Regions from separate parts of the Homo sapiens genome. Here region 1 is linked to region 2. The links come from fine-mapping of genetic effects on gene expression. A gene starts in region 2. The other region holds a variant in brackets. All regions are shown on one strand. Distances are from middle to middle.

Region 1 (2,905 bases), 56 kb before region 2:
ACTCCTGACCTCAAGTGATCCGCCTGACTTGGCCTCTCAAAGTAATTCCTGGAATTACAGGCATGAGCCACCGCGGCCGGCCATATTCCTGAATGTGTCTTGAAGATATTTCACCTGAGTATTGCATTGCTTTTTTTAAAAAAAAATTAATATTAAAAACGAAGTTCCATTCATGTTTTTAAACAGCAAGAAGATGTTAAAAACTTTAAGCAAGCATCACAGTAATGGATCTCTGTCAGAAAAATGAGACTGACTTAGAAAATGCTGAAAATAATGAAATTCAGTTCACAGAAGAAACAGAACCAACCTATACTTGTCCAGATGGAAAAAGTGAAAAAAATCATGTTTATTGTCTTCTCGATGTCAGTGACATTACGCTTGAACAAGATGAAAAAGCCAAAGAGTTTATTATTGGAACTGGATGGGAAGAGGCAGTGAGTATCTTTCTGAGTCACAGCTTTTCTGTCTCTCGCACATCAGTGTTTTGGTGCAAGCCTCTTTTTCCCAAAAATAGTTAATATTACCAAAAAATGTGGAATCAATGACATGTAGAAACCCTGGAATTGAGGTAAAATATTACTGATGATAAGAGCAGCACCTACTGTGGGTATTTATGGCCACTTAGTATGTGGACAGCACAGTACTAAGTACTTTGGATACATTAATTCATCTAACCTCTCAATAGCCATATGGGGCAAGTTTTCTTCCCAGCCTCGCTTTGTGGATGAGTATACTGAGTCACTTGGAAGATAAAGTTACATGCTCGAGATCACCCAGCCAATAAGTGGCCAAGGCAGGGCTTGAATCCAGGTCTCCTGGACTCTAGAACCCTGAGCTCCTTAGCAGCTGTGCTGAACTCCCTGAGAGAACTGAGGCTTCTTTCCTAATGGCTCTACTCAGAACTCTGTGGGTTTTTTTTTTTTTTTTTTTTTTCCCTGAGATGGAGTCTCTTTCTGTCGCCCAGGCTGGAGTGCAGTGGCGCGATCTTGGCTCACTGCAACCTCTGCCTCCTGAGTTCAAGCGATTCTCCTGCCTCAGCCTCCTGAGTAGCTGGGATTATAGGTGCCCACCATGCCCAGCTAATTTTTGTATTTTTAGTAGAGACGGGGTTTCACCATATTGGCCAGGCTGGTGTCAAACTCTTGACCTTAGGTGATCTGCCCACCTCAGCCTCCCAAAGTGCTGGGATTACAGGCCTGAGCCACTGCGCCTGGTCTGCAGGCTTACTCTTAAACAATTCATAGAATCAACAATAGAATCCTATATTTAAAACTATAAGAAAACTAAAAAAAAAAAAAAAGCATAAAACTATGAGAAAACTTGGTCTAATCCAGTGATTAAACATAGGATTACCAGATAAATACCTAATTTATCAGTATAAGTATGTCCAAAATGTGGTCCTATATTTTTACTGGCAACCCTTTTTTAATGGTGATCTCTGTGGCAAGATCAGCCAGAGGACTCTGGGCGTGTATGGGGAGTAGGTATCCCTGGGTACGCAGGGCTCCTCTGCATTCCAGGACCTGCCTCTGCTCCTCGGTCTCCCTCCAGCCTCTCCAAGCAACAGTGTTCCCCAGGTAAGGGAAGCAGAGACTGGCGGTGCCCGAAATCCTTGTTGGTGGGACAAGTATGAACGGTTTTCATTTTATTTTAATGGCTTCAAATTTAAATGTGC[A/C]TTTGAAAAGAAATATAGTCAGCACATCAAAGTGGCCATTTACAAATACTGTTGCTTAGTGTTTTAGTATTAACAAATGCTCTTGCTAGTATTTAGGATTAACAAATACTATTACAAATACTGTTATTGCTTTATAGCGGTGAAAGTAGGTATTACACTTTTTCATGCTTTGCAACTTTGAAGGATTTTTTTTTTAAGTGAATGAATTTTAAGAAAATTATTAGTGGGGGAAGGGGTAGTAAAAAAATAAATAAAAATAAGAATATTGTTTCACATAAGACTGCCAAAATGGGAATGTGGCCAAAATTGGGGCAAGGACAGTTTGGGCCCCTCAGCTGGAGGAGTAACATGCCGCTTTATTTGCAGGTCCAAGGGTGGGGAAGGACTTCTCCAGCTGCCTGCATCTGGCCGAGGAAGATACCAAAAAAGGCGAGGGTAGGGGAAGGTGCCTGCAGCGACTGCTTGGTGTGTGTTAACCTCTCCCACTGGAGCCTCCAGACCAAGCCTCCTACTGAGGGGGGCCCAGAGAAGGATCAGAGCAGCCCCTCCCAGACTCAGGCAGCCCCCCAGGGCCCCAGCACTGCTTCCAGGGCAATTAGCGACATCTGCTTTCCCACCTACTTTCGAGCAGAGAAAAAAAGTCTGCAAATCAAGGAGTTTATTTGGTGCAACAAAGACTGGGCCATCCCCGGCACTAATAGGGGCAAGGCCTCTGGGAATCCCAGTGGAGGGGCCCACAGAGGGCTGTCCATCCCAGGCCCCCTGACTTCCAGGGCCCTCCTAGTTCTGCCTCCCCTGAAGGCTTCACTTTCAAATGCTTTGGATGTTCTGGGTAAGAAGAGTAAGAACTCTTTCTTGCAGTCAGAAGAGAAGGTGCTGGATGTGGAAAAGGATGGGTGTGTGGCTTATGCATATGGCTTGAAAACAGCAGATGGGAAAGGTGAAAAAAGAGCCAGTGAGCTGGCCAAACACCCTATGGTCAACGACACGCCATCCTCCCCTTCCCCAGCGGCCCAGATATCCCTGCTGACCGATCCGGAGCAGCGCTGCCTGCATTGGTCCCTCCTGTCTGAGAAAAACCTGGCGTGCCCTCCAGACCCCAGCAACGTTCGCTACCTTGCTGCCTTGCAGCTTCTGCAGAAACGGGGAGTGCAAAGCTACAAATCCAAATTCAAAGCCAAGGAGCCAAGATCTCCTGTGATCACCCGAAAGCATGTTCTCCCAAAGGCC
Region 2 (2,905 bases):
CCACGTCCGGTTAATTTTTGTATTTTTAGTAGAGACGGGGTTTCACCATGTTGGCCAGGCTGGTCTCGAACTCCTGACCTAAGGTGATCCGCCCACGTCGGTCTCCCAAAGTGTTGGGATTACAGGCGTAAACTACCGCGCCTGGCCCCATTTTAAAACTTTCTTTATACTTCCTAGCGTTTTAGTGTCTGACATACAGTAGATGCTCAAGATCTGTGGAACGCATGATCAAAAAGATCCATTTTAAGTAACGTTCCCGTAGCCACACACCTCTGCTGCGCTCCAACAGGCAATGCGAGGAGCAACGCAAGAGGGTACAGGGACAAAAAACGACGGAAGCCGAGGTGACAGAAAAGCAAAACCCCAACTCTGGGAAAGGAAGCAACCCCAGGATCGTAGAGCGGAGCCCCTGGTCACATGACCACACGGCCCTCCCCTGACGCAGTCGCGAGCCTACGAAAGGCTCCACCCGCCCCACCGCGGGCGAGGTGACGTCACAGCCGGCACAGCGCCACCGCCCCCTCACCTCGGCCCGAACCGTAGTTCCTCGCCCCGAGCCCGAGACCCAGCGCCAATCCTGCGCCTCACAACGTGCGACAATTGCGAAAAAGCCACCCCCGAGGCCTGGGATCTGGCTTCCTCAAGGCCCCACACCCTCCGGGGCCCGATCCAGTGCCGCCCGGGGCTCTCTTACCGGCCCACATCTCCTGCAGTCTCACTCCTCAAGAGCTGTTCCCGCTCGCCGCGCCTTCAAAGCCACCAATTGCAGTTCCCGCCGCCTCCAAGCTCCGCCCACCGGAGCACAAGCATCAGGCTGTGTCTTGGGCACAGGGGACTGCACGGGGGAGCGACTGAAGCGAAGGTCGCCGAGCCCCCCACGCCGCTCTTCTTAGAAGTGTGCAACCTTGCACCAGTAGTGGACTTACACATAGGCTCCGTTAGGACCTGGCTTATGTGCTCGGCTTGTGGCTTAGACGCTGCCGTGCCCCAGTGGACTCACTGTGCCTCCCCCCACGACGGACGGAAATGGGCCCCTCCAGGACAGGCGGCGCATGCGCCTTGGGGCCCGCGGGCGGCGGGGGCGAGGAGCCGGGAGCACGGTGGAGCGGTGGAGGGCGTCACTGGGTTTCGGCGTCTGGCAAGCGGTTCAGCTGTCTGCTCCCTAGCAGCCGGCCTTCGGGTCGGGCGTCTCCGCCGGCTACTGCCGCTTCAGTTCTCCCGGTGTGGCCACGAGTCGGGTGAGTCTCGGGAGTCCAGGCCGTTCCGAACGCGTTCCGTTGTTCCTCCTCAGGTCCCTGATGGCGCGTCCCGCCGAGCCCCTTCCTGCCGCCCGTCGGCCCCAGGAGGTGGGGACCAGGAAGACCCGGCTGCCGCAGGCCCACAGCCGGGCTGCTGCGCTGGGGAGGCTGCGAGCGAGGTGGCTGGGCGCTCGCTGGAACACGCTGGTGGCCGAGACAGGCCGTGGGCGTCGCTCGGGGTTGGGATCCGCCCGCCACTCACTCAACTGGCTGGTGACCTTGGGCGCGCTCCTCCCCTCCCGGAGCCGGGGCTTCCTCGCCGGTAAAATGGACCTTGAGGAATGGAGCCCTCAACACAGGGTTTGACACGATGAGCGCCCAATAAAGTGTTGTTATTGTTGTTTATCTAGCAATTGAGAATTTGCGGGTAGAAAACGGGGGCCGTTCAAGCAAGTCTCAGCTGCAGTGCCCTGTGATGTGAGAACCCACCAAGAGCCCCATCAGTACACTTTACTCTTTTTTCTCCTTTAATGCTTTTTTTTTCCAGGAAAGTAATACATTCATCTTGCTTTTCTTGCGTTTAAAGATCAGGCGTTTTACGTAGAGTCTTAAGTAAATCAGTTTTGGAAGTCTTCATTTAAAACCTCAAAGGCATGGAAGTTTTCGATGGCAAAGGAATTATGTTGTGATGCCATTCGTATCTCCTCTCCTTTATATGTATGGCTTTTGCACTTGTTTAGTTGATTTAAAATGAGTTTCTTTTTCATCCTTTTCCTACTGCGTTGAGGCCTGAACTAGTTGTCAGTTTCTGACATTCCGCGAACATCGATTGGGCATTTACCATGTGCATTGGCAAGAATGCTCCCTCACGAGCCTGTGCGTTCCTTGAGATGTGTGAACGAGTATTTTCCTCTGAAATTCACATGATTCTGGCAGAGTGCTAGGCACCTTGTAAGTCCTGGTAATGTTTATTCAGGGAAAGCTGCGAGGGCGCATTCTCTGAGAAACTCTTCGGTGGAAGTCAGAGTAGTTAAGCCCTTCTCCCTAGGCAGCACCCCCGGGTCCCTCCCAGAAGCAGCCTGGCATGGGGTCTACAGTGCCAGCGCCAGTCGCTTTCTTAGTGGTATCGGTTTAGAACTGGTCCTGTGATAAGTGGAAGTGGGCAGGGGAGGCCGTCCCCGACCGTGTCTGCGACCTCTGCTGCAGTATGGCTCATAGCTTGAAAAGTTGAAAAATAATTCTTTAATACCAGGGCCGAAATGTAGGCCTTAAAAATGTTTTATGTTATTTATTTATATATATATATATTTAAATTTTATTTTGAGACGGCGTCTTGTTTTGTCGCCCAGGCTGGAGTGCAGTGGCGCGATCTCGGCTCACTGCAACCTCCACCTCCCGAGTTCTAGTGATTCTCGTGCCTCAACCTCCTGAGTAGCTAGGGTTACAGGCCACGCCTGGCTAATTTTTGTATTTTTAGTAGAGACGGGGATTCACCATGTTGGCCAGGCTTGTCCTGACCTCAAGTGATCTGCCTGCCTCGGCCTCCCGAAGTGGTGGGATTACAGGCGTGAGCCACCGCGCCTAGCCTAAAAAGATATATTTTAGAAAGCGGAGTGTTTACAGTTTTTTTTTCTGGAGAACAGTTTCTTCAGACTCTGCACAACAGA

The links. PIP is the estimated chance that this variant, and not a neighbour inherited with it, causes the effect.
Region 1: its variant is fine-mapped to the expression of CMC2 in whole blood (TOPMed, PIP above 0.99).

Annotation. Positions count from the first base shown.
Region 1 is chr16:81,061,275-81,064,179 of GRCh38, reverse strand. C16orf46 (chromosome 16 open reading frame 46) reads left to right here. Exons shown (of 4, transcript NM_152337.3): 3 at 187-434; 4 at 2,042-2,905. The coding sequence starts at 225. Among named protein-coding and RNA genes, the nearest start is that of C16orf46-AS1, 9.3 kb to the left of the region's middle. The variant A/C (reference allele first, on the strand shown) is at 1,676.
Region 2 is chr16:81,005,067-81,007,971 of GRCh38, reverse strand. It overlaps CMC2 (C-X9-C motif containing 2), which reads left to right and starts at 1,087. Exons shown (of 4, transcript NM_020188.5): 1 at 1,087-1,238. It overlaps CENPN (centromere protein N), which reads right to left and starts at 758. Exons shown (of 11, transcript NM_001100624.3): 1 at 695-758. RefSeq lists enhancers at 250-389, 700-809 and a silencer at 980-1,349.